Regions from separate parts of the Homo sapiens genome. Here regions 2, 3, 4 and 5 are each linked to region 1. Evidence: fine-mapped expression QTL. A gene starts in region 1. Each other region holds a variant in brackets. All regions are shown on one strand. Distances are from middle to middle.

Region 1 (6,162 bases):
GTCCACAATCCCACAACTGGTCAAGGTGGCAGAGCTAGAAATCAAACCCACGTCTTTCCACTAAAATGAGTGTTTATCACCCAGCATTCCCGAATCCTCTGGTGTGCTTTTTGAGGAGAGGGGCAAAAGAGGTTTCATTTGCTCCTTAAAGAGGCCCACAACCCCACAAACAGTGAAGGTGAACACCCCCCTGCCCCATACCATCACCAGTGTAAGAACCAGAAAATGCACACTGGACTTCAACCCCTTTCACAAAGATTATCACTCCTCTACTCCATAAGAGGGGAAAAAACTACATGGTTTGGTTTTCGTTTCACTTTAAAATTCTCAGAGCAAGTCAAGATTTTGCTCCTGGGAAATTTCCAGCATCCCATGCCGCAGGTTAAGTTACATAATAAATTGCAATACTGTATCAGTTTACACGCAATTCTGAGATTTCACAAATAGTGACCCATGTTATTTAATCATTCCACTTTCCAAAATGTGTTTCAATCAACCAGTTCTCACTGCATTGCCTGTGAAATAAGTTATCATTATATCCACTTCCAACAAAGCAAAGCACTGTCACCCTGAGGCCAGGCAATAAATCAGCGACAGAATGGGGATCAGAAGTTCCCCGACAACATCCCTCCCCACCACCTGCAAGACCATGTCACTTACCATGGAGCACCCTCCTAGCTAAATAGAAAACATAAAGCAACTAACTACTCTCCACCAGCGGCAATACTAAATTAGGAACTATTGGTGAATCATTAAGTTAGGGTACACCCCCAGCTTCCCAATGCCAGTGTGCTCATCTGTAGAAGTGGAGGCAGAAGTTAAGGGGCAAACACGTGGCACATGCCCCGCACCTTGAAAGGGAGATGTAATCAGCGAGGAAGGCTGGGGCAGTACAGGGTTTGATCATCTCCGCTAGGATGTAGCTCTGCGGTGGGTGAGGAACTCAGCAAACTCCTGACATCCCGCCGCTAGGATCGATTTGGAGCTATGGATTCATCTGAAATTCCTGATTCGAAACAGGAGTATGAGAGTGAAAATGAAATTTACCTTGAAGCTCCTCCTTTTACAGATTATGGAACTGAACCTCAGAGGAGTGAAATGATATACCCAAGGTCTCACCACTCAGTAGCAGAGGCAGTTCTAGAAAGCAGGCCTCCAGACCCTTATCCAGGATCCTTGCAATGGGGGCTTAGGGGAATTAGGGAATGGGTCATGGTTACTGCAAGTGGCTTGGCCAAGAACCAGCTAAGCAGCTAAGGCTTGTTCCATCTCTGCCAAGCTAGGACTCGCCTCCTCTCAACCTTGTGCCACATCCAGTTTTTGCTTCCAGGCTGGGGGCCTCTGATTGCTTACTCTAAGGGACAAAGGCAATTATTTACTAAAGCTAACCCCATCCAAGATGAGGAAAATACAACACTGGCACTCAGGAATTAATTTCACAATAAGTCTATGTTAAGGTGATGTTTTATTTGTGGCCCTGCCTGATCAAGATGACTTCCCCACAAGAAACGTCCAAAGCAAACAATCTTTTTTTTTTTTAAACTGAGTCTGGCTCTGAGACGTGAAGAATTGTACACTTCTTTAACTGTCCTCCAAAAGCAGAAAATAAGCCGGACAGAGCAGCCAGAAGGACACCAGAGTCCTATGCTCAGTGTGTCAGGAAGCGACCCACAAGTTCTGGAGGAACATCCTTCCAGGAAACTGGGCAGATACAGATCCCCCACCCCGCTCCGCCCCGCAAAAGGTAAGACGATCTGTACTCGGTTTGGTGACAAGCGTTCATCTGGACAAGCTGGAAACAAGTCTGAACGGGAGCTGCAGGCGCGCACGCCAGCGCCACCGAGGGAGCGCGGGGAGTCCTCTTCTCCCAGAGGACCGACGCTGCGGGGACGCGCCAAAACCACCCGCGGGCGATCCCAGGGGGCTGGCGCCACTGAAACCTCCGCAGGCAACTCCGCGGCTACCGCTGCCCCCCACCCTACTCCTGCCTCTTACCCCCAAGGCACCATTTCTCCCCCTCAACTCCCTGCCCCTCGGCCCAAGCGCTTCGGTGGGAAACAACGCCCACTTTGGAGAATCAGAGGTGAGTTGTGGGGACACGCCAGATGTCCAGATCGCATCCTTTCACAGATCAACCAAGTCAGATACAAACACGAAGGAGTTTGCTTCTCTGACATTTTAAAAACACACCATCAGGCAGCACACTGAGACACACACACGGGGGTAACAGCCACAGGGAAGTCAATAACCCACAGGGGGGCTCCTAACTATCGTTGTCCCGTGCTCGGGGCAGAGCGCTTGGGGTCCCTCCCTATCTCCAGGCCACAGCGCTCTCCTGCCCACTGCCTGTGCGCAGGATGGGAAACTACGGTCGCCCGGCTGCCGGAACCCAGAGTGGGCAAGCTGGGGAAAGGCCCACCTCCTCGTCCTGCTCCTCCTGGGACGCGCTGCTGCCCCGGGGCGCGGGCGGCACAGCTCCTCCGGGAAGCGGCGGCGGCAGCGCAAGGACTCCGCGCTCCAGCAGCACGCTTGCCGGAGCCCACGCGGCGGGCGCCCGGGCGCCCAGGGTGCCTCCCAACGGCGGCGGCGGCGGCGGCTGATGCTCTCTGGAGAAGCCGCCGGGCTCCCCTTCCTCCGACAGAGTTTCTGAGCCCGAGGAGGACTCGGCCGAGGAAGCACCCGGAGAGGACGCGGCGACCAGCGCAGAGGCTGGAGTCCGGCTGCCGTGGCCACTGCAGCCGCGGGGCACCGGCTCTGGCGCCTCCGAAACTTTCTCCCCCATTTCCCTGTCTGGCCCAAAGTGCCTCCCGAGCGGCGGGGGCGCGGCGCGCACTCAGCGCCTCCCGGGGAAGACGCGGGCTCCTGGGCTCAGGCTCACTGGCACTGCCGCTCCCGGGCTGCAGGGAGCCCCGCCAGCGACTACATGGCAGTGACGGGGCCGCAGGAGCCCGCTGCTAAGTTCACAGCCGCCCGGGCCCGGCCGCAAACGGAGGCTCCCGCGCGCGGGGACATGCCCGCTCGGGTCCGCGATCTGCGCTCCACTGTGCTCCCGCGCTGCACCCGAGCCGCGGGTACTGCGGCTTCTCCTTGCAAAACCTGCCTCCGGGACGGAGCAAGGAGACGGGCAGCCCGCAGAGCCAATGGCAGGGCAGGCGCGCTGGTGGGCGGAGGCTGCGACGCCTCCGGCCATGAGGGCCTCAGGTAGGGGAGGCGGGGCCCGGGCGCGGGCCGTGGTCCCGCTGGAGCGCCTGGGCGCAGGGGACAGGGACCAGGCGGGGGTCCCCGGAGGGTGGGGGCGGAGCCCAGAATCGGAGCCAAGGGCTGAGACTCCGAACTTAGCGGGGGAGTGGCTGACCGTCCTTGGGACGTCAGAGGGAGACGGCGAGCGGATGGTGAGACCTTGGAGAAGAACTGGACTTTGTCTCCAAAAAGTGGAATCAAGAAAACGGACAAGAAGGAGGGCTCTATAGGGAAAAAAGGAACCACACACACACAGTCACCCACGCACACGGACTCACCAGCGTGTTGGAGGAAAAGGACAGAAACTTCGTGGTATAGTGAGCGGACCCAAAGGGGAGTGACCTCTAATCTCTGCTTTTCCGTTTAAGCTCTTTGGGCCTCAGTTTCCTCAACTGTAAATGGCTACATTACTACTGGTCTTGGCAGGCTTAGAGCAAATATATATAATGCATCAGCAAAGTGCCTGGCTTGGATACACGGAGCGTTTTTAAAAGACTATTTCCTGTCTTTATTTCTGTTTGTAAACTAAAAAGTTAAGTCTGAGACTTGAACCTTTTGATAGGGAGGAAGATAAAAAAGTATGTCCTTGTATTTAATTAGGACCAAGCTCTGTAGTCCTACTCAAATTGTCTGTCTCGGTATGATCAGCTAAGCAGAGGATGAAAAGGATTCACTTTCCAATGTACATTCTCCTAGCCCTGGGTTGTAAACCAACAGGATACAGGACAGGTTGCTTCATTTTCCTTACCTCTAAGAACTAGGAGAAAGAACTTTCACTAAAGGTACCAATAGAGTACCCTTAAGTCCTTCCCTGGGGCTGGAGGATGCTGCCTGTCCGGTGACTGGAATTTCCTTGGAAGCCAGCACTCAGCTCAGCAGTGGGAAATAAATGATTCCTCTCTTGCCTTCAGCTCTAGTCCCATTCTGAGCTCTGGCACAGTGACCTGGGATGTAAATTCAACCGCCTCAGTTCCATGTACGTTGATGGAGATGTGTGCCAGGTGCAGGGGATACAAAGATTAATAAGTCAGGTCCCCTGCCCTTGAGCAGCTTATGGTCAAGCGAGAGATTGATACTGCATAATATAGCTCCCTTATCCATTTTAGAAGCTGTGATAAGTGATACAGGAAAAATGTGTGAGGGAGAAGAGGAAAGAGTTACAGAAAAACAGTAGCAGGTCCTTGAGCATCTTAGATTTCTCTTTGTCAGAGCAGCCTTGCCAAAGGTCCTTAAAAACTGGAGGACCCTAATTGAAAGCCCCTTCAGCTAATGAGCCTTTCATGCTATCATGGTATTTACAAGTGATACATCACACAGAGGGCTTCATCATATTGGACAGCAACCTTTGTCCTGATCAGTTTCCTCCCCTCAAGATGAAGGGGAAGGAAATACGTTTTGTCTATCTTGCTTCAGACAGCCATACTGCAAAATGGACTCCGGTTGTCAGGCTTTCATTGTGACGCTTCTGAATTATTCACAGGGATATGAAGACCTGCTGAGGCAAAAGGTCAAGTCTAGTGGCAGCTAAGTTGTGAGAGCAAGGCTAAAGAGAGAGCACAGTGGGGCAGTCCGAATTTAACCCGGGCCTCACAATTACTTTCCTATTTAGGAGTTCTGGTCTTTATCTGAGCCCCTACGTGGTTGATTCACCAGAGCTGAACTGAAATGACAATTTCAGCCATGCACATAAAAGAAGAGGAGGAGTTGCTTTTCAGTACATAGGGAAATAAGAAGCAAGGTCATGGTCTGAATAACCGACAGCAAGAATGACAATAGTTATTATCGCCTGAGTCCTCTGCATCTTCTCTGGATGGTCTCATTTAATCCTGGCAACAACCTTGTGAAACAGATTCTATTAGTCCCACTTTATTGATTAAGAAACTGAGGATCTGCAAAGGTCACACAGCAAGTAAGCAGTGGAGCTGTGGTTTGGAACCCAGCAACCTGATTCCAAGGCTGTCTTTCCTAGGCATTCTAGTATTAATACAATGCCACTCAAAACAGACAGCTTTTTCAAATATATATATATACCATATTATAAATATCCATAGGGAAGAAACTTTGCTGTATTGATTCAATCTGTAAAAGAAAATACTTGAGGAACATATTTGTTTTTCCCACAAACATTTTTAAGGTACTTACTATGTGCCAGGCAGGATTTTAAGCACTTTAAAATGTTAATATACTCAATTCTCATACCAGCCCAATGAGGTAGCTACTATTACTATTCTCATATCATATTTGTGAAATATGTGAAAACTATGACAGAGAAGTTAAGTAATTCAGCTAAAGTCACACAGCTAGCAAATGATGGACCCAGGATTCAGATTTGAACATTTGGTCCCAGCATTTGTGCTCTTAACCTCTACAGATCAAAGTCAAGTACTAGATCAGTATTTCTTGAACTTTTTAAACCTGAACCTCAAATAAGAAATATATTTCACACTGGAACTCATGACACATATGCATATGTACAAATACAAATAAAATGTCATGAGACAATACTTACCCATCCTTTAAGCAATGCACCCTGAAATTTATATTTTATTAAAAATAAAGATGCTAGTTGTAGTCCACTAAATAGATTTCAAACTCTACTTCAAAACTTGCAGTTTAAAAGTGTACTTGTTCATCTCCACACCCACCTGTGAGGGAAATAAACTGTAGTTCAGGCTAAGAGTATCCAGACCAGAACATGGCCAACTCAAAGGATAACTATAAATAGAAGATGACTAGAGAGTCAGGATAGTTCCCCAAAAGTATCCTAGTTAGACCCATGGATAAATTTCCTGGGGTGTGGCCAAACCACTGGACCAAAATCAGTTTTGATTTATCCAAATCCTGAAGTTCAACTTTCCTATCTTGTTAATTAAATAATAAATATTTTCCTCAGTGGTCAGAAATGTGCCCCCTCCAAGAGAC
Region 2 (6,162 bases), 440 kb before region 1:
GGTATACATTCTCTCAGGCATATTCGTTTTCATACAAGAGGTTAGTTCTAGGGCAGCAAGGCTTGATGGTAAATGTAAACATTATCCTAGTTATAGAAAGAAGGTACCAGTAAGAAGTATAATTGGTGGGTTTCAGAAACACAGAAAAACAAAAGCTTCAGAACCACAAGTTCAAAGTATCCACTCAAACACTGGCCAATGGCTTCTAATTGTCAACATCAAGGTGGAGCAACATGCAAGGGACTGCACTCAACAGACTTCAGTGCTTTGGAACAACTGTCAAAACCGTGCACATCAGCCCAATCTTGCTCTGCTACCATGGTCCCCAGACAACCTTCTTATTAGCTTCATGGAGAGGTCTGCCCAAAAGTGATTAAAAATAATAATAATAACTGCTAACACTGACAAAGCGTTTAACACACTCCAAGCAATGGTTTAATTTTCATGACAATCCTATAAGGTAGGACTTATTTTTATCCACATCTTTATAGATGTGAAAATTGAAGAACTGAGAAGTTCAGTAACTTGTCCAAGATCACAGAACTAGTAAGTGGGAGAACCGGGATCTAAACCCAGGCAGTCTGCCTTCAGAACCTGTGTTTTTAACAATCTTGCTAGACTGTCTACAAAGCAGAGAATAAGACCTTTGAAGGGCCTAGGCCCAATAATGATTATATGTACACTTATAAATTAATATCTCACCATTCTGGTCATACATAGAAATCACATGAGCTTGGTAACTAGGAATCCACAGCTAAGAGATGGAGCTGGTACTTAGGATACCAACCAAACCAGACTTTTGAGTCTGTAGCATGAGGGTCAGGTACAAGAGATAGTTCAAGCTATGGAGCTTTACATCAGATTGTGAGGTTTTTCCGGAGGCAGTAAGTCTGACCCTGGTGGACAGACAGTCCAGTATCACCAAGTGGGGCATGAGTTTTATCCCAGGATACACTTGTGTACAGATTTTTCAGGCTCATGGTAGACAGGTGGGATGTGGACACGATATAGACGCTCCTTCCTCCACAGTGTATTCTCAAAGATCCATAGGTAGATGATCCAACATATGAATTACCCAGGTCAACCAGGCACTTCCTTCCTTATGCCTGCCCAAACCAACAGATCTAGCCAGACACAGCTCTCTGGAGAGAACTGTGTTTATGCATGCAGCAGATTTTTTTTTGTTCTATTGTTTTTTAGTGGATTTCAAAATCAAATCCATATTTCTGGATCATGCCTCTTTTTATATGACTTTTCTGGTTTCTTATTTCTAGATAACTCACTCTCAGTGTTCAAGAGAACCCAGAAATCAGATTTGTGATATGAAGCATCCTTGTATAGCACTGGCTTTGGGGAAAAGAAGAATTAATGCCCACATTGTAACATGCGTCAGAAAGCAAATTTGGCCAGCAAATCAGAATAAGATACACTGACTGCATTAGTGAGATAAGTTTATATTATATATATATACACACACATATATATATATATATATAAAATCTCAAAATAAAGCAAACTCAACAGTAAAAAATCTTATATTTACAAATCTTATAGCCTTGTAACCCCAAATTGTAGATTCTTCTGTTGCACTTATTCTTTCAAGATGTTATTCCTTTAGTCTGGTATCTTCCACCATTACTATCCTCCAAGAACTCCCTAGACTCTAAGAAAGCAGACAGGAGAGGGATCTGTGTGTAGAAAGAGGCCTCACTAAATTGTGTGGATTAGATTAAAACTATGGCAGGAGATGGGATGAGACACAGTGCTTCAGTTAATGAGGAAAAGTTTAACTGTGGTTTCAGTCACTTTCAGATCTCCTGCCTGCCTCTTATAGGTACGAACACTTGTTTCTCACAGGTCCAGCCTTCTGTTTAATGAGAGGAACTCATTCGTCCCTAGCCTGAGATTTGGTCCTTATCAGTAAGTACTCCAAGCTCCAGGATAACACATCAATTCCTCCTCACCATATTCACCAGACACCCAACCTAAACTCATTCTGCATTCCCTGCAGTGACTCAGAGAGTTCCTGTTCACTGTGTCCCTGGATTCCTGCTTATGAAAGCTATGGAATCCCTGACCTTCACATGGAAGTACTGCTAAGCAGAAATTCAATGGTATAGACAGATGGCACCCTACTGTGTCAACTTTCCATATTGAAAGGGATTGTGAATAATTCACCCACATGAAATTAAACTGCATATCAAGACCAGAATTAGGATGCCTCAACTTACTGAAAAGAAATCAACGGTACTATGAAAGAAATAAACATGAACTCTTCTATTGCTTACTTCCACTTATTATTTTTCTAAATAGACCCTAAATCCTATTGAAAGGGTAAAATACATCTGAAAACAACAATGCAGTTAAATCCATCTTGAAAATAAAACCTGTCGATAGCTACCAAGTGAGTCATTCCTTTGGCTTTGTGGTCATAACATATTTCCATTCAAGTATAATCATAAAATTGTGGAGCTCGTTTACATAAAAGAAACAGTGTTTTCTATGTCCTTAAATTAAAGATCTCTCTCCAGAGCCCTGGGTCTTAAGATACTAGCTTCAGTGACTATTTATTACAAAAGGCTGCAATGTTTTCTGAACTCACAAAAGTATATGGTAAGGAGCAAAACCACATTGTACTATTAGCTTGCCTCCTGGACAGTACACCAAAAATTTGATGCTATGTATTTCAAATAATAAGAAATCATTTTCATTTTATTTTTTAAAAAAAATCACATGAGCACCTATTTTTGTATCTAAATGTGTCAATATTTTAAAATAATGTATAAGAAGGGAGATGAGTGGTAAGCATGAGGTTATGCTGTCTTTCTACAAATTGAAGACTAGCACTTGGTGATAAACAGTTTCACAGGACAAAGTTAACTTCCACTCCACTCCATCAACACCATCATCAATTTGGTTTTCTTGTTTTAAGGTAACTTGTTTTTCTGATGTGTAAGTAGCCACGTTACTCCACCAAAAATCCCCTAACAGTTTTTAGAGTATCTTGCCCCATGCAGAGGACTGGTACCAGGGCCCAAGACAAGTGCTTACAAGGAGTTTGTAATCAGGAAGTCTAGGGAGGGTGACTTTTCCTTGCATTATTAAATAGATCCATTGTTCAGTTAAGTGACTTTGTATAACTGGGAGGACAAAAATAAATAATAAAAATCAGTCTACCTAAGATTTGACAAAATCTGTGTTAAAAAAAAAAAAAAAGAGAAACTAAAGGCAAAAATAAAGATAAAGCAGCATATAAAATCATCTAAACTAGAATTGCAACTGTTAGAGAAAGATTTCAATAGCCAGGTAGACAAAGTGTTCCCATCATAGGTTAAGGTGTTTTCTGAAATAAATGCTGTGGAAAGAGAAGATATTTAACAAAGAAGCAAATTTCTTTTTATCATTAAGAAATATGAAAAAGGTGGATGCAAGAGGTCTCTAGGAAGATTATTTAATGTGTCCATAATATATTGTTAAACAAAACATAATTCCACTTATGAAATTTTTTTTTGGATTATTGTATCAGGCAAACACCAGAAGAACGAACAATTAATGTTTGTGTTCTAGTTTTAAAAAAGAAAAAAAAA[T/AT]CCCTGGGCAATGAGTCTAGCATCATAGTTAGAAAGAATTAATGATATATTAATTATAAATGATAACTCTATCTCCCAAATTCTCCTGGCTCTTGTTGTCAAAGCCTTGAATCAGAGATGGGTCATTTTTCAACTGTTAAAACTTCCTCTTAGAGAAAGAACATTGATTAGTTTTCTACTCTCTCTTCTAAGAGATGATTTTACCTCAAAAAGATTAATCTCTAGCTCATCCAGGAGAAAGAGTTAATCAATTTGTATAGAAATGAAGAAAACTGCTTCCCTGATATTTTTTAAATGTTTTATTAAAAATTGATAAGATCCAGGAATAGAAATAGGGTTGACAATGTTTCTTAGGATAGCTCATTTTTTGCTTCTTCTGTCCTCCAAATGCTTTTTATGTACTAAATGAGCTATGTATTTTTAATACTCTACTCCATAATACAGATCCAGTTCTGTCTGAGTCACACCAGCCTAAAATCAAATGATGACAAAGTCTAGAGGGAAAAGAGGGCATTTCAAAAGAGAACAAGGACTAAGCCTGACACAGAACAGGCTTGCCCTCCAAGAACTGGGAAGCTGGAACCCTCAACAATCACCTCTCTGCTTAGCCACTAACTTTCTCGTTTCTTCTTTTTATTTTATGGAGATGGGGTCTTGCTATGTTGCCTGGATGGTCTTGAACACCTGGGCTCAAGTGATTCTCCTACCTCAGCCTCCCAAAGTGCTGGGATTACAAGCTTAAGCCACTGCACCCGACCTTTCCTTTTTACTGGAGACCACTCAACAACCACCCTGGAATTAACGACCTCTTTTATGTGGCAGGTTTTTGTTTCTAATCAAGCCAATTAACAACAAATCTCCCCTATACATACATTTCTTTTTGGCCTTTTTCTGGGATGACAATGAACAAAAGACAGTGAGGGACAAATGATTAGTCTCTTTCTCCTAAAAACCCTGAATAAAATGTAGTCAAGCTATACTATCACCACAAGATGGGATTACTCCAAAAATGCTTACAAAGACATAAGAGAAAATATATAGCATCCAAAGACTGATATTAAACATCAGTCTCTGTATCCGTGAGTTATGCATTCATGGATTCAAACAAATTCAGACAGAAAATACTTGGTGAAAAAAATTGCATCTGTACTGAACACATACAATTTTTTTCTTGTCATTATTCCCTATACAATACGGTATAAGATCTATTTACACAGTATTTACATCACATTAGGTGTTATAGGAACCCTACAGATGATTTAAAGTATATAGGAGGATATGGGTAGGTTATATACAAATACTATGTCATCTTATATCAGATTTTGAACATCCTCAGATTTTGGTTTCCAAGGGAGGTCCTGGAACCAACTCCTCGGGACACTGAGGGACTACTGCATAGAGAATGCAAAGAAGATGAATAGGAAGAAAATGTACATAAATCATAATAGTGATTACTTCTCAGTGGCAGGAATATGGGAGTATGAATGTAGGTATGCTTGTACTCTAGCTTTCAAAAATTTTTAATCATGAATATTTTAACCTCTTAACCTGGAAAATGTGAGTTTTACAAAGAAAAGCTGATGTCCTTTTAAATATTGCTAGCCACAATTTCTAAGCAGAAAGGCAGAAGCTAGAGAGGGTGGGCAATGGGTCCTGTAACAGGATACTTTATTGAGATACTAATTTGTGGTATTCTTTCTGCAGGAAGAGAATGAAAAGTATTTTTTCCTTCCTCTATACCAAGTCTTTGTATTCAGAGTCTGGCCTCCTGGGCCTTGAAGGGTATTTAATGCGTTTTGGTCCCAGGAAAGGGAATGGATGTTGGGAAGCATGCTAAAAGCAAGTCCCAACCCAGGCTCTTTCCTGAGACACTCCCACAGGGAGTGCAATGGGTAAGCTTCTCAAGCCTAGAGGGGTCTGCTTTCCTGAGACTGGGGTAGGGAATGAGGGAGGCAGTGGTGTCTGGCCTCCCCATAGCATTTACATTGTATTAGGTGTTATAAGTACCCTAGACACGATTTAAATGCAGTAGTGTCTGATCATGTAGCTAACCATGTGAGTAACAAAAACCTGTTACTCCTTTCCACTGACGGACTCCAAGGGGTGGAAGATGACAGGCTCCATGGTGGGCATTGTGTGGCTTGGGGATAGAGGTGAGCAACACACAGTGAAGAAAGGAAGCCAGGCTTACTGTGTAAGTGCCAGTTACGGATGTTCCTGCCCACCACCGGCATCAAGGAGGACCACATCCCAGTTTAAAACAGGCAACATCACTCCATGTGGGCTTGGACAATAAGTAACTCTGATGAGTAGGAAGTGATTCCTGGTTTCTGTGTCACTTGACCACATCATAAAGGTTACATCAAGCAGCTACAGTAGAAAACTTGACATAGTAGATCCCGCTTGCTTGAGAAGTACCAGCCAGCCCTAACTTACTCAATGACAACCCACAATACCAGCAAACTGTCTTTCTCAGGAAATTATCAATATACTGTATGCCATTTTTTTTTTAGCCAAAGTCTATCCCTCCTCAGAACCTGACTTAAAATGTGAAAACAAAGCACAGAATGCTGAC
Region 3 (6,162 bases), 460 kb before region 1:
TAACCTTCCTTATAATTCTATAAAGTACTTGAGGCCAAAGGCTCTCTCTTAAATCTTCACTGTCCCTAAAATGACCATCACAATGTATTAGACAAGTTCAATTTTAGGGAGAAATATGCTGAACAGTTCTTAACATTAGTACTTTTCATATGAGTTATCATGTTTACATTTCCCAAGGATATTCCTAACATGGAAACCATGTCTTGTATCATCCAGGCATTTAGAAATGGAGAAAGAAATAATTAAAAAGAGACCCCATATAAAAAGGAATTCTGTATTTTAGAGTCCAAACACTGAAACAGAGAGGATAAGATCTGGGCTAACATATCGCAAAGAACAACTTAGGGATAAAACAGCAGGAAAACAAAGATAACATGTGAAGACATACCAAATATCAAAATGCATTAATTATTTTAAAAAACCAACAAATAAAGAAATAAAACAAAACTCAAGAAATGGTAACCAATTACCTGCATGAGCAGAGAGAGGTGAGTGTGGTCGAGGCAATGCTGGTGACTGCCCATTGCCTATTAAGCTTTTCCGGTTGCTTGTTCGGCAACTATCAAAAAGAAAGAAAAAACAAAGTTTAAAAAGAATATAGCATCAATAATGTTCAACCATGTTCCCGGTAGACATGGACCAGGTTGAGCAACCTATCTGCTCATGTTATTGTTAAAATTATTACAATTATGCATTCACTAATATTTGAGGGGTGGCTACCTCTTGAATATTAGAAAATATAATGTATTCATATAGCACAACACCATCAATATTCCTCACCACCAGTGGAGCAATAATCAAATGCCTTCTTCCAGCGCTTGAGTGCAAATATGTAACATGCCATACACACAAGTGATAAATTAAGGATTCAAATCAGCAAACCACAGGTAGCATCTTTGTTGACACAAAATTTCTAATACAAAATTACATGCAATGAAGTGCAGTGACATTAATCTTATAATGACGCACTAATTAAAAATCTAATTATTTAGACAAATTTCTTATTTGTGCCTTTTGTCAATAGAATAGCTGATGCCTAAGATAAATGTGTCTCACCACTCATTCATTTTTCATCTTGTATATGGCATTCAATTCTTTATTAAGGTAAATGTTCTGGAATCATAAAATCAGATCCCAGTGTATTAAAATAATAGTGATGGTCCTCTTTCACAAGCATGCTAGCTACTGGTTTTATCCTGAGTACCCAGAGCATAGAAATAAATTACTACACATGGGCACAGGGCAACAATTTGTTCCTGTTTCTGCTAGAAGGAAGTTATAAAATGGCTAATTTGATTTCAAAGTAACTTTCAAAAGCCTTAAAGAATAAGACAAATACAAAACTGGCGGATGGGTGAAGTGGATATTATCTTATTTTCATTTGCTTTTCTTCAAAATAGACTGGCACTTCATTCTCTATTAGCAATACAGTAGTCAGAGGAGGGTGGTAAAACCCAGCAAGTTACCTCATTTAATTCACCTATAACAAGGCTCAGGGCTCTGTGCTTCTATCCTCCTACACTGTGCTGCCCTCAACCACCATTAGGAGTTTATTGCAATGCCTTCTTAGTGCAGGACAGAACTCTGTTATACCAGATTCCTGAAACAGGAATTTTCACTGGACTTCTAATTTAGGTACAGTGAGATAACATTTCTAAATATTCAAATAATACATTTCAAAACCAAACCCAATTTCTTTCAGCAATACAGACTTGGGAGTTATCTTCTCTTAGATGTTTGCTGCTTATTATCATTTGTCAACAGTCCCATATTTATAATTTCTTAAGGTCAGGCTGCATCACTTTATTTTCCTTAGTGCAGCAATCAGCATCCCCTAGTATTATCTGTGAGTTTAATTAAGCTCATGTTTACTCAGCCTTAAAGCAGTTGTTAATAAGAATAGACTTTTGATATTTAATTATGAAGGTGGGTTGGATATTATCAACTCATCTATCAAGAAATGTATGTATTCAACCTATTAAATTCACAATCATTAAATCAGACAGTCTGATTGGTTTTAAAAGATACTGTATAATGTATTCAGTGTTAATTCAAATTAATGTCTTCTTTCATTCCAATACAGAAATATTAAATATATTAACTTGCTGATGTTAATAGAAGAAATTATAAATGACAGATTTATGTCCTGGAAATGTCAGCAAACTTCTTTCAGCAAATTAACTGAAGTTCAGGTTATTATAAAAATGGCTACATTTTTTCGTGTTTAGCATTTGATCTACATCATGCATAAAGATCTTTTCAACATATTTATTGTTTATATGCATAAATAAAATTCATAAGAAATGTCTGTCAATGCAAATAATCTAATGAATATCTTAACTAGATATATCAGTGAAATATGCTGATATACTTAAAACTAAATTTAGAAAATGTTATTTAAGAAAAACTTAAAAAATTTCTAAGAAACGTACACTACCATACATACTAAGGTACATACACTACCACAATAGGCAAAACAATGAACAATTTAGATTTTTTAAAAAATGAAAACATGAACAACAAACCCTCACAATTCCATTAGTTATTTAAAATCTATCAAAAAGGGGTAGAAAAGTGATTTCAAAAATGTGATTCAAAAAAAATATCAAAAAGAAATGTCTAAATAAAACCCCCAAATAAAATATACTTGTTTGGTCAATATACAAACAGATTTACATTACAGTCATCCTGGGTGCATCTACTCCTCTATACAGATTTCTAATCTTTATAAATAGATGATTCATTATGAATGCAATGTAGAGTGAAAGAAAACAGGCTATTTCATCTATGAATACATGAG[A/C]AAGTTAAAAGAAGAGAAGTTAAAAACAAATTACCTCAGAATTTGAACAGTTTACCATATTTAAGGTATGGGTAGTATGTTACACAAAACAAATTATCGAAGGTATATCTTATTGACAAATGCCATGAATAATCAAAGCATAATTCATCACTGAAAGTGTCTCCTCTAATCTTTTTTCCTTTCAACATGAAGCTAGAGATGATATTAAAATTACAACAGACTTGGAACTTTCTGGGATCTCTCTCAACAATGAAATAGAAAACTTTTAAACATCAAATGATCCCAAAGTAGCAAAGCCAGTGTTTATATAATATAGGCTGATATATTTCCATATGTACATGAAATAAATCTGTATACTTATGAAATGGGGTCTTCGCCTTATGAATGAATTTGTTGCTAAAATTTTCAAGGGTAGAGGGACACTTTACACAGCATTTCATTCCCAAATACCTATATCTTGATATATATATCTAAATACTTTTAAAATCCTAGGACCCTACTGAGATATTCTGTAGAAAACCTTTCCAGGGTACAGGAAGGAAGAGTCATCCAATCTCAGTATTACCTGCTTCTGGGATATCTGACAGTCACCTAATCTTATTACTCTAAGTACCTGATTCCCAATAAATGAATTAAAATCTGCACTTAACTCCAACAGTAAGAAAACTTCAAGTGGGTTAGAACTGCATCTGTCACCCAGGTTGCCACAGCACCTGGCAATGCCCACATTAATAATAACATTGGTGCAAAATGCTGAGCTGACCTCTGTCCTCCAGGTATCACACACTTTCCTGCCCATGAAAGCAGAAGTTTATGGCACCTGCACGTCAGGCAGTCTCTCCAGGTGTTCATGGCCACACCTACTCATTTAACCCATTAAATGATAAAACAGTGGAAACATCTCCACTCAGGCAAATTAAAGGCTCCTTCCTTTTCACCAGCACAACTAAGTCAATTCTGCCTTGTTTTTTTTTTTTCAAGCAAAGTCACCCAAGGGAAAAACAGGTGATGTCCGACCAGATTAAACATGAATACTACTTCTCCTGTAGCAGAAATATCTTTTTTATAACTCACCCTTATCTAAGCATTTGAGCTTGTAAAGAGTTATCTCCAGTTTTCATCCTCAGGGATACAGGGACATGACCGCAAAAATGAAACTAAAGAAAAGTTATGAACTCAAATTGCAGCTATTCCATCCCCAAATACATTCTTTTGACTTCATTCTTCAACAGCTAGAAGCCATTCACCATGCCCATGCTCCGACGTGAAAGCCCAACATGAGACTAACCACTTCCCACAAAGTACCCTCTATCAGTTCTCCAGTTGAAGCAGCACATGGAAAAACTTACTTTCCTGTGGGTGAGTTGCACAGTTTGTTCTCTGAATTTGGAAAGTGACAACTATTGTTCTATTAACACAATGGCACAGAGTCACTACTTGCAAATTCAGAATTTAGGCTGAGAAGACAGTCATATAACAACTTGAGACAATGGCATAAACAATGGATTAGGACAGGAGCTGATGATCACAAGCATTTATTTTTACTTCATTTATCTGGTACCTCCTTGGGAAGCTCCTCCTAGGGGCAACTATGAGACACAGAAAGATAACTTAGACACAGAGCACAAGAAATGCACCTTGCTGACTACAGAATCCGAGAAGAATGGGAAGGGGAAAAGATGTTCTGATGATAGGACCTTGAGGGAGGACTGGCTGCCCCTGAGGGGCAGGAGGTGAGCAGGCATGGACAGAACACTGCGTGTAAGAATGTCACAGCTGAACAGGTGCTTGGGTGGAGATGCTTTGGAGTGACATGAGGTCACCACCAGGAAGTGTTTTGTCTGCATGGTTTTTGCTCAGGCAGGTGAAATGAGGACTGAAAGAGGCACCACACCTGCTCCCTGAGTTCACTATTACCATCGCGAAAACAGTTTCACAAGGAGCTTCTCAATTTCTTAATTACTGCCAACAGCACCTCCCATTTGCTAAGAAGGTGAAGAGACAGGCCATGCATTTCATCATCTAAGTCAGGCCTGGCTCAGTGTGAGGGACAAAGAGGACTATGGGCTACTAAGCTGGAGGCAGGTGGGAAAGGAGGTGTATGTATTTTTGGTTCCAAGTACCCCATTCCATTTCTGCAGAAGTTGTCCTTATGCTCTGTGCTCCATAAGAAAGGCTTGGTGGGACCTGTAAAAGTTTCACACCTGGGTCTGCCACTTGTCTCCTGGCAGAAGAACCTGTTAGCCATCCCCTACCAGGTCTCTGAAAGCTGTGAAGCCCACCAGGCTGTGGCCTTTTCCAATTACTCTGAGTAGCTGAAATCCAACTTAATTTTAAATTACATTCACTTTGAGACATAAATTCTGATCATTTCTGACCATGGCAAGAAAAATGAAGAGAGGAAACCCCGACAGGCAGTGATTTTTACATTGACAGCTGACTTGAAAGGTCAACATTCAGTAAAAAATAAGACTAACCACCATTGAGGGGCAGTAATAATATAGTGAATTGAGTAAGAGGGGCCCCGGTAATTCTGGAAAGCTAGAATTATTACATCGTCCTAATGAAAATTTGATAAATTTGCACAGGAGACCCATCATAGACCAAAGCTTTACTGTCCATGAACATCTGCTAACTATTTCCTCACACCTTTAGAGAAGATGAACATTTGAATATTTCTTAAAGAAGAAGGCTGAAGTGGAAGAAATAGGGCATGACCAGGAGGCAGAAATTGTCTAGCTAATGTGGTAATGCTGCATAAATGTTATGAACTAAGCAGCTTTCTGTCTCCATTTCTTCACAATGAAGGGATTGAAACAGATGAGATAAATATTCATAAACTTACTTTTTTTGGTCTCAAAAATTTTAATAGAAAAATAATCCAACAAATCCTACCACACTGGAACAAGCAACTGTATCATTTGTGCTATTTGTTTCCAATCTTTAAAAAAGATATAGAAACTAGAAAGAGAACAAAATGTACTCTCTGAAGTCCAAGCCAATAACATATTCCAGTCCCCAAAAGGCAACTACTGAAAGAACTGGGGCTTGCAGCTTGCCCATTCATTCTTGGTATGGTAGTGTATATATATATATATATACGTATATATATATATACACGTATATATATATATATATACGTATATATATATATGTGTGTGTATATATATATATACATATATATATATATATGCTATATGTATAACCACACTATATGTGTGTGCTTCCACTTTTCACTAGTAGTATCACATAACAGGAAAAACAGAGACTTGAAATTGTACAAAAGAAATTAACAGTTACCTTTTAGTGGCTTGTTGGGCTTTGTATAGCAGACGATCCCTGGGAATTATTTGATTCTGTAA
Region 4 (6,162 bases), 400 kb before region 1:
GAACAGGTTGAAGAAAGCGTTTCTAATATTATTAAACAAATTTGCACTCACAATGCTAAAATATGGAGAAAGATAAAAAGATAGACAACAATTAACTTGTAGGGATAGGCCTGAATGCTGAAAACTAAGACAGATAATAGGCAAGGTTGTATCATCCTGGAAAATACCAAAAAATATTTTAAAATAATGCCACAAGGTAAGAGAGGTTCAGATTTTTAAAGTGAATGAGTAAAATGAAAGAAACATTATCCTGGAAGCAAAAAAGGAAAAGGAAAAAAAAAACCCAAAACAAAGGAAACAAAATAAGAATTCTATTTCCTGATGGGTTGAGCAAAGAACTACACAATCTCCGAAGGTAGTGTAAAGGATACAGTCTGAAGCAAGTAAAGGACATGCTAAAGACTGGCCAGAATGGGAAGAGAATGCAAGGTCTTTCTCAGGCATTCTCTGGATCCCAGGAGAATCAGAGACACGGAAAAGATTAGCAGATAACCTATAAGCTAACAAAATATAAGAGAAGACAGTGCATAGATATGGGAAATGAAGCACTTATCTCCCAAGGCAGTGAGTGACTCCTTGATATGTATGATTGATAATTAGAGTAGAATACATATATGGCACACAGCCCATAGGACTGGAGAAGGTGCAGAATCATGTCTTGCAAGCACACTCCAGCACTCTACCTTCTGACTTTCAAGCAGGGGAAGTTCCTGGGAGAAGCCCCATAGCTTAGTCCCAACAGAGTTCCACCCCGTGGGAGAACAGCTGGACACACTGCCAGAAAACACATGGCATCCTTACAGGGATGAAGGGGTCATGCAAAAGAAGGAGACTACTGGGCAAGATCCAGAGATGAGTGTATCTCTCCATTCTAAAACAGCTGTCTGGAAGATCCATCAATAAACCACGTGGAGCACTGGCCTCCACCCAAGCCAGTAATCCAATTATGAAGTAGACAGCAACACTTGGAGATCAATGCATCACCCGGCAAACAGAAAACCTAACTCCTATCTTGTTTTAAGACCAACCTTGTTGTCACTTTAGGCAGCCTTCATGGGAGCCCCCCATCCCCAATGAATTAGATATCCCTCTACTGGGCTGTGCTCCTGAGAGCTCCTGCATGAAAGGGTTCTTCCACTGTATCAAAATCCAAATCATTTTGTGCACATTATCAGTCCCTATTAGAGTAAGAGCTCCTTGAGGGCAGGGGCTTTATCCCCTCATCTTTAAACCATCACTACCACCATTGGGATGAATATTAAGCAAAGGGAGAAAGGGAACAATAGAGAAAGGATTGGGGGTGAAGGGGTGGGCAGGGGAAAGAAGAGATTGAGGATGGATTTGCTACAGGTTAGAAAGATGTGTGATAACAAAGTTAGGGCTACCTGCCTAATATTTTAAAGACTGACCCTATATGTGTTTTAAAAACCTTTTCCTGTCTATTTCAATTTCAGTTTCATGGGTCCATGAGTCCATTCCATTATCTATATAAGCTGTACCTATTAGGCAGGTCTACTGTTTCAAATTTCAAAATCTCAACAGAGACCATGATAGGTAACGAATTGCGTTTAAGTATAAATATACAACTAGTTGTGTATGAAGTGCTAAATTCTTTTTGATGGTAACAGTGAACCATGGCTACTAATCATTGCATTAGATGCTCAATCTGGAATTAACTTCAAGGACAAGGTGCTTCTTGATCCAGAAACTTGGGTCTAAGGTGCATCATTTCTTATACAGCTCTTGAGCATGAATTATAGTGCAATTATAAGAAGTGTCAATTTGGTTTAAGTGGGTCAGCATGGTTATATTTAGCCCTTTCGTAGCTGACACTAAGACCTTTCTGTAATTTAAGATTAAGGTTAATTTATCCGTTCTTCTTTTCTTGAATATTTTTTCCAGGTCATACATCTAAAGTTATGGAAAATTATGCCATTAAAATGAGAAGTATGAGTTTTCATCAAAGTACCAAACAGGGAGCATATACAGAGGTAGAAATCACATGCTTCTGTAACAATCGGAATTTCCTTCCATTGCTAAGATCAATTCCAATTATTCCACACATCGGAAGATATGTCAGGGAGGACATGAAGTTATTTAGTCAAGGAGTTCTATTAAGTTATATCACTTCTATACCAACAAAAAGTTTAAAAGAAACGTTAATTCATAGGGGTATAAATATAATGTCAGGCATGACAAGTGTTAACTCTTACTAGTTATCATAAAATGTAATTAAAACATCAATCAGGCTGGGCATGGTGGCTCACACCTATAATCCCAGCACTTTGGGAGGCAGGTGGTGCACCTGAGGTCAGGAGTTCAAAACCAGCCTGGCCAACGTGGCGAAACCCCGTCTCTACTAAAAATACAAAAAATTAGCTGGGCATGGTGGCAGGTGCCTGTAATCCCAGCTAGTTGGGAGGCTGAGACAGGAGAATTGCTTGAACCCCAGAGATGGAGGTTGCAGTGAGCCGAGATCATGCCACTGCACTCCAGCCTGGGCAATAGAGTGAAACTCTATCTCAAAAAAAAAAAAAAAA[G/AG]AGAAAAGAAAAAAAACACATTAATTAGGTATCAATTTACCTGTTTCACTGGTAAAGATTAAAAAAAGATAATACTCAATGTTGGTAAGGACATGGGGAAGATAAGTACTCTCTACTAACTTTCTGGAAGGCAATTTGGAGAAGGAAAACATATACATACATAGACCCATATATGGTCACATACATATATATACATGTAGTAGGCACATATGTGTACATGTCCAAACACATATATAAATGTATGTGTCCATATATACATGTACATATAATATATACATAGATATATTTGAATTATAATTTAATATGCAATATTTATACAAAAGATACAATCAAGTATGCACACAGATTTGTGGATATGGAAATTAATCTCAGAATTGCTTATAATAGCATAATGTTGGGAAAAAGCCAAAGGTACAAGATGAGGGCAATTGTTAATACATCCTAAAACAGCCACAAAATAGAATTTTAGAAAACCAGTAAAGAATTAGAATTACAGTAGGCTGAATAATAGATTCCAAAGATATCCAGGTTCTAATCTCTGGAACCTGTGAATATGTTACCTTATATAGCAAGAAGAGTTTTGCAGATGTAATTAAGAATCTTGAGATGAGGAGTTGGTCCTAGGTTATCCAGGTGGGCCTTAAATATAATCACAAGTGTCTCTATGAAAGTGAGGCAGAGGGATACTTGAAGAAGGCAGCAATGTGGCACTGAAATGAGATGCTAGGCTGCTGGGCCTGAAGATGGAGGAAGGGGACAAGAGCCAAAAAACTGCAAGGAATGCAGCTCTAGGAGCTGGAGAAGGCAGGGAAACAGATTCCACCTCAGCGCTTCTAGAGGGAGCTCAGCCCAGCCGACACCTTGATTTCAGCGCACAGAAATTGATTTCGGACTTCTGACCTTTAAAATTCTAAGAGAATAAATAAATATAAGCTAGTTTTAAGCTAGTTTGTTATAATTTGTTATAGTAACCAGAAGAAACTAAAACAATGATATTTTTAAAAAATATGTAATAAATGGGAAATGCTCCTGAAGTAATATTTTAAAATCAGAAAAAAATGAAGTTCTATGATCTACATTAAGATATTATATATATGGTTATATACGAATAAAAACGATGGAAATCAACAAAGTATATATATATATATTTTTTTGAGATGGAGTTTCACTCTTGTTGCCCAGGCTGGAGTGCAATGGCACGATCTCGACTCACTGCAACCTCTGCCTCCGGGGTTCAAGCAACTCTCCTGCCTCAGCCTCCCGAGTAGCCGGGATTACACGTGCCTGCCACCATGCGCAGCTAATTTTGTGTATTTTTAGTAGAGACAGGATTTCACTATGTTGGCCAGGCTGGTCTCAAACTCCTGACCTTAGGCAATCCACCCACCGCAGCCTCCCAAAGTGTTGGGATTATAGGCGTGAGCCACCATGCCTGGCCAACAAAGTATTTTTAATGAACATCTGTCAGTACAGAATTATGATTTATCCTCTTTTATACTTCTCATGTTTTTTTACAAGTTTGTGTGTGTGTGTGTGTGTGTGTGTATGTGAGTGTGTTTTGAGAGAGCATCTTGCTGTCTCTCAGGCTGGAGTATAGTGGTGAAATCATGGCTCACTGCAACCTCCAACTCCAGGGCTCATGTGATCCTCCTGTCTCAGCCTCCCAAAGTGTTGGGATTACACATATGAGCCACTGTGCTATGCCTAGGTTGTTTTAAATTTAAAAAATTTTCGTCTGGGCATGGTGGCTCACGCCTGTAATCCCAGCACTTTGGGAGGCCGAGGCAGGTGGATCAAAAGGTCAAGAGATTGAGACCATCCTGGCCAACATGGTGAAACCCCGTCTCTACTAAAAATACAAAAATTAGCTGGGTATGGTGGCGGGTGCCGATAGTCCCAGCTACTTGGAAGGCTGAGGCAGGAGAATCACTTGAAACCGGAGGTGGATTTTGCAGTGAGCAAAGATCACACCACTGCACTCCAACCTGGGAGACAGAGTGAGACTCTGTCTCAAAAACAAACAGACAAAAAAATTTCTGATTTCCAGGAGCCACACATTTGACAGTCCTATTATCATGACCTGAAAGTTCAAGTTCCTGAGAATTTTAGAATACTTTGAAGAGTTTACAAACTTAAGAAAACAATACACACTTTTACTCTGGTATTTTAATAAAATTTGATTGATATTTTTTGACACACGAAATAATGCATATGCATTAATAAAAGCTCTATGAGTCTTGGAAATAAATACTAAAATTGCTTTTAAAAAGAAGTCTTTCCTACTCTCAGGAATTCTATAATATAAAAATGAAAAATATCTCTGATTTCTAGATATAAATCCTTACTACCTTGTCTATGGCAACTGGGCAAACGGGTATTTTCAAAGCCGACTGGGCTTTAAATCCATGCAGTGCTTTGCTTTTGTTTGAATATATGTGTCATTATTTGCAGATTGGTGAGGCTGTGCATTTATGTGAACAGTTTTGAATTCCAGACCTGCTTCCCTCTGTCATGTTGTACAATGAAAAAGCTTTCTTTCACTGCTCAAAAAAAACATGAACTCTTGAGAAGCAAACTTACTTTTAACATTATCTAGACATGAATATAATAAAAATAATGCTCTTCATTTCAAAGAATTAAATAGCTATAATTTGGGATTACTTCCTCCTTTCTCCAAAACACCCTAACTTGTTATTTCCCATGAGACTAGGTAATTCAGTTTAAACTGTCTGTATATAGTTAGACTGAGAGTACTGAAAGGTAAAGACGACGTTTCTGCTGCCAACCATAGAAATATTCTTGTATTCAATGTACTGTCATACATGTTATAGAAGACAACCATATTAAAGTTCCTGGTGATCAAAAAACTTTCAAAGAGAAGTTACTCCAGTTAATAGGAATGAGAACAACAGCCAGTCAAGTTACTCAATATAGTGACAGGTGAGTGACAAATGAATGAATGTGAAACAAGAATTGTCTTTATAAGTAGCTTTTAGGAAATGAAGTACGTACAGAATTATTAAGAATGCTAATATACGAAGGAGAAAGAAAAACAAGGCCAGAGGACATGTAAACAGCAGCAATAGAAAACTGAAAAGAAAAGCAAATCCCATTTAAAAGTGGCTGAAAAATACACCAGATTGGAAAATTGGAAAATAAAAGAAAATTGGGTAAAAGTTTTCACTCTGTATAAAATGATAAAGGAACAATAGATTTTCATGTCTTCTCCTCACTTGCCATGACCCTGGTCATGGCTTCCACGATCTCTTGTGTAGATTAATGCGGTACCGTTCCTTCCTCTTGGTGCTCCTCACTGTCAATGTGAAACCATTCTTCCAAAACTGCTCAGCTCAAACAGGTGCACGCAGTCATATCACTCTCCCATGAAACAAAGTTGAATGGGTCCCCATTGTTCTACAGCAGTATTTCTCCACACATGGTTTCTGTCTTATCATCATTGAATCATCTGGAGTGCTTGTTAGAAATGCAGATTTGGTGGGGTGGGGGGGGGGGTCTTCTGCACACCCATTGATTCTATAATTCTGGAAGTACAGCCCAGAAATCTGCATTCTACTAAAATGTCCAGGTGATTCTTAAAGTTTGAGAGGTACTCCACAAAAAT
Region 5 (6,162 bases), 430 kb before region 1:
GAAAACCCAAAAAAGTAATCCTTACAACTCTCAGCTGAGAGAAAAATTTCACTGTTATTTTAATGTTAATAGCTGCCACTTTTTAAAAAGTGTTATCAAGTCAGCAAGAGTGTTTTTCTTTCTTTTTTTTTTTTAAGGGTTAGATGTTCACAGTAAGAACTAATTAACTGCCAAGAATGAGATGGGTTTCCAAAGGAATGCCATTCTCCTCATCAAATACTAGTTTCTATTTATTTTAAGTATGACCATTCATTCTTAATCTGAAAGTCTTCGTAAGCATGGTTAGAACAGGGCAAAAAGTATTTATATATGATTCTACAACATAAAGTAATTATCTTAGTGTTGGATTGAAATTCACCTGTATACATATAAATATGGTACATCACTTTTCATAGTTTGTTGTCTGTACAATATTGAACATGAAATAAATGGCAATAGGTCTGAGCTACTAGATGTTATTTGTAGTTACTATAAGTGTGTTTGTGTATTTCTGCTTAAAATATAGATACACATCATTTTCTTTTTCAAGGGTTTTGAATTCTGTTGTTCTCAATAATCCTCTCATCATTTACCTAAAAGTCTATGGTAAATAATCATTGTACATACTGACACATGTGACCATATGAAATAGGTAAACCACTGATCCAGACAGACCAGACTATGCTGCTGAAAAATCATCAAGTCAGGTAAGAAGTAACCCTTATTTTGTTCTTGATGTAAAATAATTCTGCCCTCCCCCAAAATAAAAATGGCGTTTAAAACCGGTCTTATTTATTCTAACATGATACCTTATAGCTCTCCTACTAGGCACTGCAGACAAGCATGTATCTTGTTCTTTCTGTGACCCTAATGCAATACCTGGCACAGAGGCATGCTTAATTAAACCTTGCTGAATAAATGAATATTTTGAAAGAATAAGCCAATAAAAATGAGAAAAGATAAATTTTGCAAAAAACGTGGGTGGGGAAGTTTAGTCATAATAAAACCCAACCTTTCTTAAATCTCCCCCTTCTCAAATTAGTGGAAGTTTCCATTTTACAGTTTCTCCTAAAGATCCTGGAATCTTCATTAGAAAGCAGAGATTGTGGGTCAGGCTGTGCTGAGAGGTAACAAAGTCAGATTTTTTCATTGGCCTCCAGAGGCTTAATCTAAAATGGATTACAGGTACAGCAGGATAATTCACAGAAAGATTTAGGCAACTGCAAACATTCTGAAAGAATCTATAGATTAAATGAGTTAAAGCAGCCATGGAGCAAGAGTTTTTGGAAGGGGGGCAGATTGCTTTTGACAAATAAGCACCCCTTCAACGCAAGTGACAGAAGTAGGTCACGATGAGTAACTGAATTTTCCACTGATTCATTTCCACATATATCAGAGGCAGTAAAGGACACCAGTGATCTAGTTCTCCACCTGTAAGAGCTGTACAAATTAGTTCTCTCACGAAAGAAGGTGGAATAAAAACTGACCCAGCAGGGAGAACTGCCATCCTGACCTATGAATAGGTCACTAGGCAGTAAGGTCAACAGGCCTGACAGGAATATTCACTTCAGAGAAGTCCCCCATCTTTAGAAACTCTAACAATTTAGATTGTAGGGATATGGGAACAAGATGATTCCTGCTCTTTCTCCAGCTAACAGATCAGCACAATCAGGTTTAATGGTGTTATGCCAATTAACATGTATTTTACAAATCTTCACTAAGTCTGTACGCAGTTTTTCAGTGTTTAACTTTGAATGCAAATAACCTCTACTTTAAGTGTGATAGGGAAAAATTTTGCAAATCATGTCTAAATACAAATTCATTTATTTTAGTGCAAATGGAGCATACCACTGTAAATGTCAAATAGTCACCATCCATTATGATAACAGGGCCCAGCCAATCTTTCCAACTTATTCAAAGTTCACTGCATGAATGATCCAAGCCCTCAGTCCCTAGACAGAACTTAAAATATGTCCTTATTAAAAAATTCAAGGGCAATAAATCAGGCTAAAAAGGCGACAAGAGACGACCCTCCTCTGCCATCAACTCTGGGAAATGCCCAGGGCTTTCTGCTGGACTAGCCAGGGAGCTGACAGATTCTCTGTATCTATGCAGAGGAAAGCAGCAAAGAGTAGCAATTTAAAGACTGATAATCTCCACCCACCAGGAACTGATATTAATCTATTTAATAAACGCATACATTTTAGTCTAGTCAGAGATCATCCACAGATGAAAGTAAATGCTTTTTTCACATAGGAAAAAAATATCCTATGTGGAAGTGTTATCCCCAATAGACATCAATTTTACTTTTTACAGGACAGTTAATGAGTTAGGCAGCATTATCCACACTTTAAACAAAAGTAGTCAAATTCTAGCAACTTCTGAAATACCAGCCAAAGCTACAGGAAAAAAATTTCACCATAACAGTTAATTGGCATAGAATCAACACCCATGACCTTGGCCTCTTTAGCACAATGTTCTATTGCACTAAAATACTAAATAAAAACATAGCGTTTGAGATACCCAAGGCTTTATAAAAGTAGACGTTGTAAGAGAGTGACACAAACACCCAAGATAAAAAAAGTGCTGAGGTACAGAACACTTAGAAGAGGTTAGGTGTTCCAAATATACAATGTTTGTATGGTTTTAATGTTTTAAACTAAACTCCCTTGAAACTACACAACAGAATGGAAGGGCTTAAAACCACAACCTCATTACTAATACAAAACAGATCTTATTTTAAATATCACCCCTTAGGACTCTGACCAATTTGCCCCAGGCCTGCTCTGGAATGGTGATGTACAGAAATGAAAAGGTATTTATTTTCTGAGTTAAAATGTCACTCAGATGATCTATTTTTGCCACCAGTGCTATGGTTACCTCTTCAAAACCAAAATGATGATTATGTCATTTTACCACAGCTATCTAATAAACATCAGATGGTCATCTCAGAGCTCTCATTCAGTGCTAACCTGGTTCAAGCCAAAGTTTAAAAAGAAAACAACCCTAAACCATCAAATATTGCTTGTAACACTATAAAACAAAAGAGATACGGAATACAGGTATCACACCATGCTATTACTAAATTAACTATAGAGCCTTTATGTTGTATTGCCCTGAGAAATGATTTGTTAAATAAAAACCTATAAGGATGTG[A/C]ATGACCCATATGTATACAAAATATTTAGATAATAAAAATACACATTTAATTTGAAATTTGGTTTTACAATTTCCTAGATGCTCCTAAATATATATAACACTTAACAAGGAATCATGTGAAATACTAGTAAATTTCAACCTTAAACATACATTTTTATTTAATTGAAAAAATTTCATTAAACAAAATTTAAGTATATAATTTAGAGAAATTCAAATGTATAAAAATAATATATAAGTCTTAGTTTCAGAATAATTAGGATTAACTTTGTGCAAACTCGTAAACAGGACAAACTTCAAGTCCACAGCAATTTCAATAATGTTGTTAATATCAAATTATAAAGTCAACAGCAATGAATTTATATTTTCCTTTCTCCTACCTTTTTCACATGAGGAAATGTACTTTCCTTCTAAAACTCCTACTATTCCATCCACCTCACTTTCATTCTTCATGGACACAGAAATCATGCTGCCAATAAAGGTTTTCTAAGTAGCAAACACTTTTTGTTCTTATCAAAAAATAAACAAACAAAACCCAACAATCAAAACACACCATCACCTTGCCATAGAATTTTGCAACCCCAATTTCCTGCTCAATTTCTTTCAAACCTCTCCAGCCTAATTTCCTTTTTCTTAGAGATGAAATACACAGAATGGTAAGGTCCCTCAATATACTTAACTAAAAGAAACATGCTAGCAGTTTGATGACATTTCAGTAGGTATCTGATCCTCCTACAAGCAAAGATGTTTACATCCCGAATATTACTCCAAAGTAAAACAAAACATATATGCCTATGGGAAACATAAGTATAAGGATGGCTCTATGGCTTGTCTTTCCTAGAAAACACTTTTAAAATCATGTACAAATTGTCTCCCCATCCCCACCTCCATTTCTCTTGGGAATGCAGAGGGCCAGAAACCTTAGACTCTGACCTGGGTCTAAGCAGACCATAAATACTTGAAGCTGCTGGAAAATAAATATTCAACACTAATTACCTTTGGCACTCTTCATTAATCTTTATGTATATGACTTTTTTTTTTTTGAGAGAGTGTCTCGTGCTGTCGCCCAGGCTGGGTGTAGTTACGTGATCATGGCTGCCTGTAGTCTCAACCTCCCAGGCTCAAGTGATCTTCTCACTTCAGCATCTCAGGTAGCTGGCACTACAGGCACATGACACCATGCCTAGCGAATTTATTTATCTTTTATTTTTGTAGAGATGGGGTTTTGCCATGTTGCCCAGGCTGGTCTTGAACTCCTTGGCTTAAGCGATTCACCCACTTGGGCCTCCTAATGTGCTGGGATTACAGGCATAAGTCACCATGCCCGGCGGTGGATGACTCTTAATCCCCAATCTGGAACTCTCTTGCCTTCCATCCAGATCCACATATCCAGCATCTCCACTTGGGTGTGTCTATAGAAGCTCCAGTCCAATGAATCCCAAACTGAAGATATCATCTTCATCCAACGTGTCTTGCTTCTGTGTTCCCAATTTCAGTAATTGGTACCATTGTCTAACAGGCTAAAGCAGAACTATGAGCACAACCTCCACTTTAGTTCTTCTTCACTCTAATCACTCAGTTAGTCATCCAGTCTTTCAGAATCCACTTCCTGAGCGTCTCCCTTCATTCTCACGGTCACCAGCCTGCTTGTGGCATCATCACCATCTGCCCCAGAAGCCCGTGATGCTTGCTCTAACTCAGATCCTGGAATCCTTTTTGCACAACTCCAGTTCAATCCCTCATTGCTAGGAATCTTTCCTACAGGCAAATGTGATCTTATTGTCCTGTACAAAACCCTTCAGTGGCACCTCCTACCCTCAGAGTACATTTCCTGTTTGCCACTCTAATGGAATTGCTCCTCAACTCTCACTCGAGTCTCTGTACGATAGCTATTTGTTTTGTATTGTTGTTGTTGTTGTTTTGCCTAGATTACAGTCTTCCACATTTCAATGATCTCTCACCCATCAAGGTTGTTTACTTCTTTCACAGCCCACTTTTTTGTTGTGTGTCTCCTGGATGCCCTCAAAGTTCACTATAATCCCCACCATGCATGGCTAAGAAGGAGTAAGACAGACATATACTCACACATGATACTGTAAATTCTGTTACTTCTTTGTGTTTTCCTGTCTCTACACCCAACTCCACAGCATTTCCCATAAAGCTGCAAGCGTTCAAGAAGGTAGAGACTCATCTGTCTCCTTCACCACTGCCTCTCCAGCACAATCCCTAACACATGGAAGGTGCTCAACTGATATTACTGAATTAATGAACAAATAAATGCAGAGGATGGAGAGTCAACTACACTCAGCTCCAAATTCCAAGCTTCATCTCCAAGTGAAATCTCCTCTGCATATCTTAAACTTAGAGGTGGTTATAACAACAGATCCTATCCTAAAGAGTAGCTTCCAGGAAGTAAGGATATTTCATATCTGAATTGCTTAATACAGACTAGAAGTCAAAAAATTCCTTCTTCATCCAACTCTATTCATTAACAATCCACAAACATGTTTTTAGACTGAAAACCCTTATGGTGAAAAGGCTTATTCTTATAAAATGCACAGCTTCTACTTTTTACTCTGACAGGTAAAGTTTATATTTGGAATTATCAGAAGAAAACTAGAAGGAAGCTCTGCCATCTTTGATGCAGTTCTATGGTTAGAATCAACTGTGCATTCAGGAACCATGTCTAAGACTCCATCACTAAACTATGTTTCTTTTTGCAGTTGTACCAGGAGGTATCATTAGCCCTCCAGATCCTTATGTGCACAACGTGTATTTACGTTCATCTGTGAGTGCATACAGAGATATGGTACTTGGCTAGATTCAACTTTGCTTCCACAGCATAGTTGGGAATCTGATGAGAATAAAAAACATCTGTATGAACTCTTGGTCAAGACAGATACAGTTTATTTTCTTTTTGTAATAATTATATATTTCAGTGAATTCAGTACTGCCAATAAATACAAACAGCACTCAAATCACCTTTCTTAGTACAACATTAAAGTATAAAACTGCTGTCTTCTACACTAA

Direction of the effects. Alleles are on the strand shown, and positions count from the first base shown. SD is a standard deviation of normalised expression in the study named. Not every link is listed here.
For the expression in Th1 cells of the gene that starts at base 3,045 in region 1, T is the high allele of the variant in region 2 and AT is the other (moderate effect, 0.55 SD a copy in Schmiedel 2018).

Evidence for each region. PIP is the estimated chance that this variant, and not a neighbour inherited with it, causes the effect.
Region 2: its variant is the best candidate, but not a certain one, in a credible set for the expression of MAST4 in Th1 cells (Schmiedel 2018, PIP 0.55).
Region 3: its variant is the best candidate, but not a certain one, in a credible set for the expression of MAST4 in blood mononuclear cells (TOPMed, PIP 0.54).
Region 4: its variant is the best candidate, but not a certain one, in a credible set for the expression of MAST4 in NK cells (Schmiedel 2018, PIP 0.57).
Region 5: its variant is the best candidate, but not a certain one, in a credible set for the expression of MAST4 in blood mononuclear cells (TOPMed, PIP 0.86).

The regions. Positions count from the first base shown.
Region 1 is chr5:66,593,276-66,599,437 of GRCh38, reverse strand. MAST4 (microtubule associated serine/threonine kinase family member 4) reads right to left here and starts at 3,045. Exons shown (of 29, transcript NM_001164664.2): 1 at 2,420-3,045. The coding sequence starts at 2,782. RefSeq lists silencers at 2,300-2,449, 2,460-2,599, 3,210-3,409.
Region 2 is chr5:67,035,296-67,041,457 of GRCh38, reverse strand. The region is part of intron 4 of MAST4 (microtubule associated serine/threonine kinase family member 4); the gene reads right to left. Among named protein-coding and RNA genes, the nearest start is that of MAST4-AS1, 34 kb to the right of the region's middle. The variant T/AT (reference allele first, on the strand shown) is at 3,588.
Region 3 is chr5:67,048,801-67,054,962 of GRCh38, reverse strand. MAST4 (microtubule associated serine/threonine kinase family member 4) reads right to left here. Exons shown (of 29, transcript NM_001164664.2): 5 at 471-559. Among named protein-coding and RNA genes, the nearest start is that of MAST4-AS1, 48 kb to the right of the region's middle. The variant A/C (reference allele first, on the strand shown) is at 2,801.
Region 4 is chr5:66,993,812-66,999,973 of GRCh38, reverse strand. All of the region lies in intron 4 of MAST4 (microtubule associated serine/threonine kinase family member 4), which reads right to left. Among named protein-coding and RNA genes, the nearest start is that of MAST4-AS1, 7.3 kb to the left of the region's middle. The variant G/AG (reference allele first, on the strand shown) is at 2,541.
Region 5 is chr5:67,027,147-67,033,308 of GRCh38, reverse strand. The region is part of intron 4 of MAST4 (microtubule associated serine/threonine kinase family member 4); the gene reads right to left. Among named protein-coding and RNA genes, the nearest start is that of MAST4-AS1, 26 kb to the right of the region's middle. The variant A/C (reference allele first, on the strand shown) is at 3,136.